3 linked regions of the Homo sapiens genome follow. The protein of the gene in region 1 purifies or fractionates together with the protein of each later gene. This does not show direct contact. Each region holds a gene or a part of one and is shown in the gene's direction. Other genes may lie near its edges.

The links.
Region 2: the proteins of B3GALT4 (region 1) and PLAA purify together in Homo sapiens (affinity purification with mass spectrometry; one large-scale study listed by BioGRID and IntAct). This does not show direct contact.
Region 3: the proteins of B3GALT4 (region 1) and ABHD12 purify together in Homo sapiens (affinity purification with mass spectrometry; one large-scale study listed by BioGRID and IntAct). This does not show direct contact.

The regions. Positions count from the first base shown.
Region 1 is NC_000006.12:33,275,582-33,279,329, forward strand, and holds B3GALT4 (beta-1,3-galactosyltransferase 4 precursor), read left to right. Parts: upstream 1-1,541; 5' UTR 1,542-1,838; coding exon 1,839-2,975; 3' UTR 2,976-3,244; downstream 3,245-3,748. Other genes in the region: RPS18 (small ribosomal subunit protein uS13), read left to right, coding at 216-302, 384-485, 595-686, 810-885; WDR46 (WD repeat-containing protein 46), read right to left, coding at 3,695-3,748. UniProt on the Homo sapiens protein: Involved in GM1/GD1B/GA1 ganglioside biosynthesis.
Region 2 is NC_000009.12:26,905,959-26,909,291, reverse strand, and holds part of PLAA (phospholipase A-2-activating protein), read left to right. Parts: intron 1-1,293; coding exon 1,294-1,458; intron 1,459-3,215; coding exon 3,216-3,333. UniProt on the Homo sapiens protein: Plays a role in protein ubiquitination, sorting and degradation through its association with VCP. Involved in ubiquitin-mediated membrane proteins trafficking to late endosomes in an ESCRT-dependent manner, and hence plays a role in synaptic vesicle recycling.
Region 3 is NC_000020.11:25,300,146-25,303,893, reverse strand, and holds the end of ABHD12 (lysophosphatidylserine lipase ABHD12), read left to right. Parts: intron 1-265; coding exon 266-344; coding exon of another isoform or gene 345-596; exon of another isoform or gene 597-1,547; coding exon 1,548-1,675; intron 1,676-2,515; coding exon of another isoform or gene 2,516-2,537; exon of another isoform or gene 2,538-2,562; intron 2,563-3,009; coding exon 3,010-3,049; 3' UTR 3,050-3,680; downstream 3,681-3,748.

The DNA.
Region 1 (3,748 bases):
GTGCTGGGATTACAGGCGTGAGCCACTGCGACCGGCCCAAAGTTAACCTTCTGTCGAACGGTTTATATCTGGAAAGGTGGGTGAGGAAAGGGTGACCTAGGGGATTGCAAAATAGATTATTGCAGATCCTACCTTTGTGAGCTTTTTGAATGAGGCTATAAAGGAATTTAAAAATCAGATTCAACACTAATTCCGAAACCCCTCACTTCATTCAGGGTGTGGGCCGAAGATATGCTCATGTGGTGTTGAGGAAAGCAGACATTGACCTCACCAAGAGGGCGGGAGAACTCACTGAGGATGAGGTGAGGACAAGGAAGGGGGCTGGGGGTGGGGTCAGCCTCAGAAAGGGGTCCATCTAGATCTGACCTTGGTCTGCCTGCCAGGTGGAACGTGTGATCACCATTATGCAGAATCCACGCCAGTACAAGATCCCAGACTGGTTCTTGAACAGACAGAAGGATGTAAAGGATGGAAAATACAGCCAGGTGTGTACTGAAATGAGGGCAGGATTAGAGGAAGGGTGGAGGGTCCTAACAGAATTGGGCATAGGAGGTCAGGGGATAAAACATCCCTTGCCCCCTCCTCTGAATCCAGGTCCTAGCCAATGGTCTGGACAACAAGCTCCGTGAAGACCTGGAGCGACTGAAGAAGATTCGGGCCCATAGAGGGCTGCGTCACTTCTGGGGGTGAGTGGGGGGTCTCATCTCCCTGCCTACCTCGACTCAGCATTCCTCCTACTCGCTCTTCTTTTTCCCCAACCTTTTGTTTCTGCTGTGCATGACCTGTGACTCTTCTCTTTTTACCTGCAGCCTTCGTGTCCGAGGCCAGCACACCAAGACCACTGGCCGCCGTGGCCGCACCGTGGGTGTGTCCAAGAAGAAATAAGTCTGTAGGCCTTGTCTGTTAATAAATAGTTTATATACCTATGGCTTCCTGTCCTTTCTGTCCATTCTAATAGGGAATGTTAAAGTGCTGGGTCCTTTTTCCATTTAGAGCTGCCCTACTCAGTTGCCCACACAGTGCTATTAGTTTTAGCAGTGGTGATGCTGCAGACCCCCCAGTCTCCCTATATGTAGCTAGTGATGTCCCTCTCTGTAAAGAGAAATGTGAGGGTAAAACAGTTCAGCCTTGAGGGGCTGACCCAGACCAGTTTAGAGACCAACACCCTGGGGTTGGTGTGCAGCATCATTGTGGAGTGGGTTAGCTGAGCCTAGCCAGTTGCAGTTAAGGTGAGTTTGCAGGTCTTGGTCACTCTGGGTTTTTTTGTTTTTGTTTTTGTTTTCTTTTAAGGGGTCATCTAGTCATAAGGGAAAATCCTTCGGGCTGTGACCGAAGCAACAAAGGCAAAAACGCGGACGTTGGTTATGAAGGGTGTGGTCTCCCTGGTGGAGTACGTCGGTGGGTTGGGATGGGGAGCGGCTGGACAGACCGGTCTCACTCCGTTTGGTGCCACTCCACCCGCCCGGGTTTCCGCGCCCTGCCGCGCTGCTCCGACGCCGCTTCCGGCGGGGATGGGAGCGCGCAACGCGGAAGCGGGCGGCAGACCGGCCGCCGGGGCGAGGCGGGGGAGGGGCCGTGAGTGCCGCAGTCGGCCAGCCATGGAGCGGAGCTTGCTGGCGGCGAGGCCGCGGCGACAAGGTAGCCACCCCCGCAGCATGCCTCGACCGCGGTCCGCAGCTGCACCGCCTCTCCCCGCCCCCCAGGGTGCGCTGGTCCCGGTCGCGCGCTCAGACCTCCGCATCCCGGGCGTGGTCGGTTAAGTCCCCGGCCGTGACCCAGGCCCGGGGAGCTAGTCTCCGCCCTTCGCTCTTACGGATCCCCTCGGAGTACGCCGCACCATGCAGCTCAGGCTCTTCCGGCGCCTCCTTCTCGCCGCTTTGCTGCTGGTGATCGTCTGGACCCTCTTCGGGCCTTCGGGGTTGGGGGAGGAGCTGCTGAGCCTCTCACTAGCCTCCCTGCTCCCAGCCCCCGCCTCACCGGGGCCGCCCCTGGCCCTGCCCCGCCTCTTGATCCCCAACCAGGAAGCTTGCAGTGGTCCCGGGGCCCCTCCCTTCCTGCTCATCCTGGTGTGCACGGCTCCGGAGAACCTGAACCAGAGAAACGCCATTCGGGCTTCGTGGGGCGGGCTGCGCGAGGCCCGGGGGCTCAGGGTACAGACGCTATTCTTGCTGGGAGAGCCGAACGCACAGCACCCCGTGTGGGGTTCCCAGGGGAGTGACCTGGCCTCGGAGTCAGCAGCCCAGGGGGATATCTTGCAGGCCGCCTTCCAGGACTCCTACCGCAACCTCACCCTAAAGACCCTCAGCGGGCTGAACTGGGCTGAGAAACACTGCCCCATGGCCCGATACGTCCTCAAGACGGACGATGATGTGTATGTCAACGTCCCTGAACTGGTATCAGAGCTGGTCTTGCGAGGGGGCCGTTGGGGGCAATGGGAGAGAAGCACGGAACCCCAGAGAGAGGCTGAGCAGGAAGGAGGCCAGGTTTTGCACAGCGAGGAAGTGCCTCTTCTGTACTTGGGCCGGGTGCACTGGCGCGTGAACCCCTCTCGGACACCGGGGGGCAGGCACCGCGTATCAGAGGAGCAGTGGCCTCACACCTGGGGCCCCTTTCCACCCTATGCCTCAGGCACGGGGTATGTGCTGTCAGCGTCTGCTGTGCAGCTCATTCTCAAGGTGGCCAGCCGGGCACCCCTTCTCCCATTAGAGGATGTCTTTGTGGGGGTAAGTGCCCGACGAGGAGGCCTCGCCCCAACACAGTGTGTCAAGCTGGCTGGTGCCACCCACTACCCGCTAGACCGGTGCTGCTATGGGAAATTCCTGCTGACGTCCCACAGGCTGGACCCCTGGAAGATGCAGGAAGCCTGGAAGCTGGTGGGTGGCTCTGACGGGGAAAGGACTGCGCCCTTTTGCTCCTGGTTCCAGGGAGTCCTGGGCATCCTGCGGTGTCGAGCAATAGCCTGGCTTCAGAGCTGAGAGTGCCTGGGGCCACAGGAAAGGCAGGAACAGGACCTTCTCTCTCCCAGGCCCAACGCAGGGGCCCTCACTGGCTGCAGCTGATCTGTTTCCTTATACCAGATCCTCAGTCTCACTAAAGACAGCGATATGGGAGACACCCAGGGGCCTGGCCCGCCAGCCCAAAAGATGGTCATCGGGAAGAGAAAAAGAAAAAAATGCTGCAGTTGTTCTCTCAAGCTAGGGCAGAAGAGGGGTGTCAAGCTCCTCAATAAACTTGTCTCCACTTCTTCGAGTGCAGTGTGGTCTTCACCAGGACCCCCAGAACACCACAAACCTGGAGAGCCCAGAGGCTGCCAGACCCTGCTGCATGGGAAGGACATCTCCAGGGACATGGGAGAGAGGACAGCCTCTCTGAGGAGGAAGGCCCCTAAAAGGCAAAGCTAAGGCCACAGCAGCCACAAGGTATGGGGTGGGGGTAGAGGCAGGACACTGACCCCTCCGATCCTAGAATGGCCTCATGCTTGGCAAGGGGGAGGGGAACAGGTCCACAAGATGATCCAGACACATTATCCAAAAAATCGCTTTCCTCTTTAATACCAACCCACCCCAGGAGACAGCTGTCCACCCCCAGTTGGGGAAGGGGCCACACTGCCCCCACCTCCTTGTTCCAGGGAACACTCATTTCCCTACAGGTGATCTTGGGGAGAGACTGTTCCCAGGCAACCCTGGAGTCTGGCTCAGCGCACAAATCTGTCCAGGGCAGATGGCCGGGCCCCCGTGGGCTTGGCCTT
Region 2 (3,333 bases), on another chromosome or scaffold:
TCCTTAATGAACTTGATTTTTATTTATTAGAGTTAAAGCTGTTAATACCTGAGATTAGTGAAACAGGCCCTAGTTTCCATTTATAATTGATTTCAATGGTGTAAATTTGGATAATTTTCCTTATTATCGGAATTTGGACTTTTTTATTCTTGAGATAAAGATTTTTAAAGAAACACAGTAACTCAAAGTCATGATACAAAGGATACTGATACTAAAGATACATGCGAAGGATTTGAAGGAAATTGTTTCATGAAATGAGAACATGGGAAGAAAGGGCAGTATGTCCATTAAATAAATTTTTAAAATAATGTGACATCAAATATGCATATGGAACTAAGTCATAAATTAAATGTTATCAGTAGGCATTTAACTCTTTGACTATTTCATTGACAGCTGTAGAATTTGACATAAATTGGCTAAAAAGTTGTTATAAATTTTCTCATGGAGAAACTAGGTTATTGACTTACACTTGAATATATATTACACATGATACTGCTTTGAAAGTCATCCAAAATGGAGGCCGGACGTGGTGGCTCATGCCTGTAATGCCAGCACTTTGGGAGTTCAAGGCAGGTGGGTCACTTGAGGTCAGGAGTTTTTCACCATGTTGGTCAGCCTGGCCAACATGGTGAAACCCCATCTCTACTAAAAATACAAAAATTAGCTGGTGTGGTGGTGCATGCTGGTAGTTCCAGCTACTCGGGAGGCTGAGGCAGGAGAATCGCTTGAAAATCCTGATGGCGGAGGTTGCAGTGAGCCGAGATCATGCCACTGCACTCCAGCCTGGGCAACAGAGTGAGACTCCATCTCAAAATAATAATAATAAGGCCAGGCGTGGTGGCTCACACCTGTAATCACAGCACTTCGGGAGGCTAAGGAGGGTGGACCACGAGGTCAGGAGATTGAGACCATCCTGGCTAATGTGGTGAAACCCCGTCTCTACTAAAAACACAAAAAATTAGCCAGGCATGGTGGCAGGCGCCTATAGTCCCAGCTACTCAGGAGGCTGAGGCAGGAGAATTGCTTGAACCTGGGGGGCGAGCTTGCAGTGAGCCAAGATGGCGCCACTGCACTCCAGCCTGGGCGACTGAGCAGGACTCCATCTCAAAAAAAAAAAAAAAAAAGACAAAGCTCATAAGCCTTATCCTTACTTTATGGTGTTTGATAATTGCTGAGTAAAGTCTTAACTCCCCATGGTGTACACTAGAGTACTTTTATTGAAAGTCTTGGCATTTATATATTATCTGGCCAATTACAGTTAGAGAATTTTGAAAGTTTGGTTTTGGGTTCTAGGTAAACTGAAGGAACTTAATGGAACTGCACCTGAAGAGAAGAAGTTAACTGAGGATGACTTGATACTTCTTGAGAAGATACTGTCTCTAATATGTAATAGTTCTTCAGAAAAACCCACAGTCCAGCAACTTCAGATTTTGTGGAAAGCTATTAACTGTCCTGAAGGTAAATAAACACTCTTCAAAAATGTAACCAGAAAGCAAGAAGTTTTATCTTCATTTCTATCAATATTACTGGTATTTGTGGATTAAATGAAAGTTAACTTCGGTAGTTCTAAATCACTATGGAAAATCTTCACGAAAAGGGTTCACTACACTACTGGAATTGATGATCTTGTTTCCGTTACATGCCTTTTGAGAATCTGAAGGTAATATATGATCCCCATATATGCACCAGTTTGTTTTTTTGTTGTTGTTGTTTGTTTTCTTTGTTTTTTTGTTTTGTTTTGTTTTTGTTTTTGAAATGGAGTCTTGCTCTGTCGCCCAGGCTGGAGTGCAGTGGCGTGATCTCGGCTCACTGCAAGCTCACTGCAAGCTCCGCCTCCCGGGTTCACGCCGTTCTCCTGCCTCAGCCTCCTTAGTAGCTGGGACTATAGGCACCCGCCACCATGCCCGGCTAATTTTTTGTATTTTTAGTAGAGACGGGGTTTCACCACGTTAGCCAGGATGGTCTCAATCTCCTGACCTCGTGATCCTCCCGCCTCAGCCTGGGATTACAGGCGTGAGCCACCGCGCCCGGGCATGCACCTGTTTGTTTACTGTTTCAGAGCATTTGTGGATTCCTGGCCAGGCATCCAAGATACTCTTAGTGACCTGTTAACCCTAGGCTACAAATATTTACTGTAAGTTTTTTTTTTTCCAATTATGTCAGTTAAGTCTTTTTTAATTCTCAAAGAGTCCTTGCCTGTTATTTTTTTTTATGCCACTGATTTATTGGAGAAAAAGTCTTTTTTTTTTTTTTTTCAATAAAATGTCCCATATTATGGATTTTGCTGATGTGTTCCTCCATCTCTGTATTTATTGCTAGTGGCAAAATTAGATTCTGGTTCAGTAGGTGTTTTTTTTTTAGGTGAAATCCTTTATAAATGATGATGCATACTACTTTTACATTACGGAGCACATAATGTTGGATTTCCTCACCTTTAGTGATGCTAAGATTATTTTGTGCATTCATTCAGATGGCATCTACCCAGGCCCTTGATTATAAAGCTCCCACCAACCTATAAGCATCCTATCACTTGTTAACTGGAATTCTTCTCTTAAGAACTTTCCGGCTGGGCACGGTGGCTCATGCCTGTAATCCCAGCACTTTGGGAGACCAACTTGGGTAGATCACCTGAAGTCAGGAGTTTGAGACCAGCCTGACCAATATGATGAAACCTCGTCTCTACTAACAATACAAAAATTAGCTGGGCGTGGTGACGTGCACCTGTAATTCCAGCTACTTGGGAGGCTGAGACAGGAGAATTGCTTGAACCCGGGAGGTGGAGGTTGCAGTGAGCCGAGATCATGCCATTGCAATCCAGCCTGGGCAACAGGAGTGAAACTGTCTCAAAAAAAAAAAAAAAAAAAAAAAGAACTTTCCCTGTTTAATTGTTCGGTCTTACAGAATTTTTTAAAAGCAAAGTCTGCACCCCATTCTTTCCATTCATTTTTGAATACTCACAGTGTGTAGGCTGTTTGAGAGAGTTACCTTATTTTTAAAGCGAATATGATCTTACAGCAATAAATCTAGTTTATATAAATATGAAAAATTAACAAAAGTTTCAGAAATATATGCATTTTTTTTAAAGCAGACACATGATTTTTCACATTTTCTAAAATGGTTAGTTTTGCAGTGGGAAAATAAAATCCTTCAAAGTCGATAGTCAAAAGAAATTTTCTTTATTTTCATAAGCATTAATGACTTTTTTTTTTTAATAGATATTGTCTTTCCTGCACTTGACATTCTTCGGTTGTCAATTAAACACCCCAGTGTGAATGAGAACTTCTGCAATGAAAAGGAAGGGGCTCAGTTCAGCAGTCATCTTATCAATCTTCT
Region 3 (3,748 bases), on another chromosome or scaffold:
TGGTGGAAAAATAATCATTTTCAATTTTCAGAAGACATTCCGAGGGCCAGTTATATAGCTGTGATTGACACCTGTCATCTAGCTGTAATAGATGTTCATAGAGATAATGAAGAGTTAACTTTCAGTTGTCTAGTAAAAAGAAATCCAGCAGAAATCAGGCTGTTTCCCAAAACACACCCTGAACCCAGATCCCTGCCATGGACAGAGGGTCTGGGCAACTCTGCCCTTTCCCTGGTCTTGGTCTAGCCCCTTCTCCCTCCTACAGCGTGAAGCACATCTCCTGTCCCCTGCTCATCCTGCACGCTGAGGACGACCCGGTGGTGCCCTTCCAGCTTGGCAGAAAGGTGGGTCCTGGCCTCTGCCTCTGGTGTAGCTGGCATCTTGCACACTCAGCCAGTGTGGGTGGACCAGGCTGGGAGTGGGCAGGCGGGAAGGCAGCCCCTGCATGCTGCATCACGGGCTGCGCACCAGCCACGTCAGGCTCAGGAGGCCACCTCATCCTCCCTGCGTCACCTCCAGGCTGCTTCGGAAGGACATGGGAGGTCTGGTGTAAAGGTTGGGGCAGGGGCCCACTGATGCTGTCTCCAAGAATATGAAAAATAAGCAGATAGTTCCCAGTCCTCACACAGGGGTTATCAGAGTGGGCTGCCTATGTTATCAGAGCCCAGGCCAACCTGGGAACTCAGCTGGAAGGGCTCATCAGTTATGGGCTGAAGGCAAAGAACCCCTTGATGAGGATCTCCCAAGCCCATTGCAGGGGTCACAGTCAAAATTGATAGAGAAACTTCTAGCCTGTTTCCTTGCCTTTGGAATTGCGCTGATACCAGAACCAGACCATGCTGTCTGTGGGGCCTCAGTGTTTGCTTTTGCTGAATTTGCTTTGACTGTCAGCAAGTTGGATTGGATTTGTGGCTCAGAGTAGGGTAAGAGAAGGCAGCCTGGGTCTTGGTAATGGCAGGGCAAACTAGTTGGGTGTGTGCAGGCCTCGTCCACGGATTCAGCCCAGGGCTGGGAGCACTTCCTGCTCTGACAGCCCCCATGCAGTCAGGCTCCATAAGGCACACAGATGACGGAGCCACACAGGGCAGGGGCAGAATGCAGAGCCGCCCAGCAGCGCACAGCTCAGGCCCACCTACCCTTGCCGAAATGAGAGGGGGAGGGGGCTGAGATGGGTACATCAAGCCCATCTTAGCTAAGCCTGAGGCACATACCTTTTGTCCCAGCTCCCCAAGACTGTGCCATCCCTGCCATCAGAGCCTCCCAGGCACCTGGTCTGGCTCATCCACCTAGCCACTCCCCAGAGGAAGGGTAGTCTATAAGGTGTGAGGACAGTATCTTGAGTGGTGTGTGCCCAGGAGCCAAGCCTGGGGCCTGGCTCCTCCCAGCCCACCCCCGGGCCTCCTGGTCGTGACCGGCTGTGGCAACAAGCAGTGTATGTGGGACTCTGGACTGGTTTCTATTGAAGGGGAGGCTGCCAAGCTGGTGTTCCTCAGGCTGGGACCCCCATGCCAGGCCACTGCCTCAGGCTCTGACCCCTCTCTCCCCAGCTCTATAGCATCGCCGCACCAGCTCGAAGCTTCCGAGATTTCAAAGTTCAGTTTGTGCCCTTTCATTCAGACCTTGGCTACAGGCACAAATACATTTACAAGAGCCCTGAGCTGCCACGGATACTGAGGTGAGACATTCTCTTCCCACCCAGGGGCTTCGTCTGGGCAGCACTGGCTCACACCTAACGTGCAGCAGGTGGCAGCTGCTGAAGCTGCTCAGGGGGCCTCAGTGGGGCCAAGAGTCACAGTGATTTGGGAGCCTTCCATTTCCTTGGCAGAGGGGTTTGAGGGAGTGCCTCTCTCCTGCTCCAGGACTGTTCACATGATCATGCAGGGTGAGCCGCCTCCATGTTGTAAAGGATGTACAGACCCACACGGGGGGGCACACACGCTCACAGGTGGCCATGTTTGGGAACACTCAGACACAGACACCCCAGCCACTTGCAGGCCTCGGATCTCTTCCACACACCTCTCAAGACGTACACAGCTCCTCAAAAGCCTCTTTGTCCCCAGCTGCTTCTTGAAGGGACGTGGTGCTCCTGACTGCCCTGCACTGGCAGGACATGGGCGCCAGCCCAGAGAGCCATGAGTACCCACCTGGGCCTGAGTGCAGAGCCCAAGCCTGAGGGTGAGGCCTTGGCAGTAGTGACAAGGGCAGTGTGTGGAATGGACCAACCCCCGGCCTCCTCTGTACTGCCCTGGGCCCTATGCAGGTTGCTGCCCAGACTCGCCTACCTGCCTGTCAGAGGACACAGGCCCCCACCCCACTGCCTGGCTGTGTGGCCTTGGGCAAGATGCTAACCCTCCCTGTGCATGGGACAAGGCTTCTGAGCCGAGGAGGGCATGTGGTACTTCGACCCTAAGCACTGGACCCACGGAGGGGCTGCTGCTAATGGTGATAGAGTTTTTTGTTGTGTTGTGCCAGTCAGCTCCAAAAAGTAGGTCAAGGTGCCAGTTTCTCCCTGCAGGGGACTGAAATTGGTGGCCTGAATTGCCTCCCAGTGCTGTATATCCCGTGAGTAATTCTACTGCAAACTTCTGCTTTTCTCCAGTTGCCTTTGGAAGTTCCAGAGGCAAAACTGTGTCCCTTTAGCACAGGTACCTGGGTTGCTAAGGGGGCAGTGGGCTCAGAGTATGGGTTTGCTTTGCGGTTATAATTTTCCCCATTATAAAAGGAAGATATGTGTAGAAAATTTAGACCAGAGAATAGCTCTGAAGTTGAGGGTCAAGAATCAGAGACCTTGTCTCCATGCCTGTGTGTTGGGCTTTGACTTGGCACCACACTGCTTGTTCCCTGCCTAACTCACTGAGTGCTGCTCTGGGCTACAGCGCATCCTCATGGGGCTCTTGGCTGCCTCCTCTCTGCACAGCCTCTGCTTCCTTAGATAGCAGTGTGAGGACTGTGGAGAAGGATCTTTGGTCTGAGCTCAAATGATTGGCTCCTGATTGTCCTGTGGTCTAGGGAATTCCTGGGGAAGTCGGAGCCTGAGCACCAGCACTGAGCCTGGCCGTGGGAAGGAAGCATGAAGACCTCTGCCCTCCTCCCGTTTTCCTCCAGTCAGCAGCCCGGTATCCTGAAGCCCCGGGGGGCCGGCACCTGCAATGCTCAGGAGCCCAGCTCGCACCTGGAGAGCACCTCAGATCCCAGGCGGGGAGGCCCCTGCAGGCCTGCAGTGCCCGGAGGCCTGAGCATGGCTGTGTGGAAAGCGTGGGTGGCAGGCATGTGGCTCTCCTTGCCGCCCCTCAACCTGAGATCTTGTTGGGAGACTTAATGGCAGCAGGCAGCCATCACTGCCTGCTTGATGCTGCACTGAGCTGGACAGGGGGAGTCCGGGCAGGGGACTCTTGGGGCTCGGGACCATGCTGAGCTTTTTGGCACCACCCACAGAGAACGTGGGGTCCAGGTTCTTTCTGCACCTTCCCAGCACATGCAGAATGACTCCAGTGGTTCCATCGTCCCCTCCTGCCCTGTGTACCTGCTTGCCTTTCTCAGCTGCCCCACCTCCCCTGGGCTGGCCCACTCACCCACAGTGGAAGTGCCCGGGATCTGCACTTCCTCCCCTTTCACCTACCTGTACACCTAACCTGGCCTTAGACTGAGCTTTATTTAAGAATAAAATCGTGGTGGTGGTCCTTTTGTCTCTCTGCAGCGCGAGAAGGGTCAATGTTGCCTCCTCCATGCCCCAGAGCCGCCCACAGCC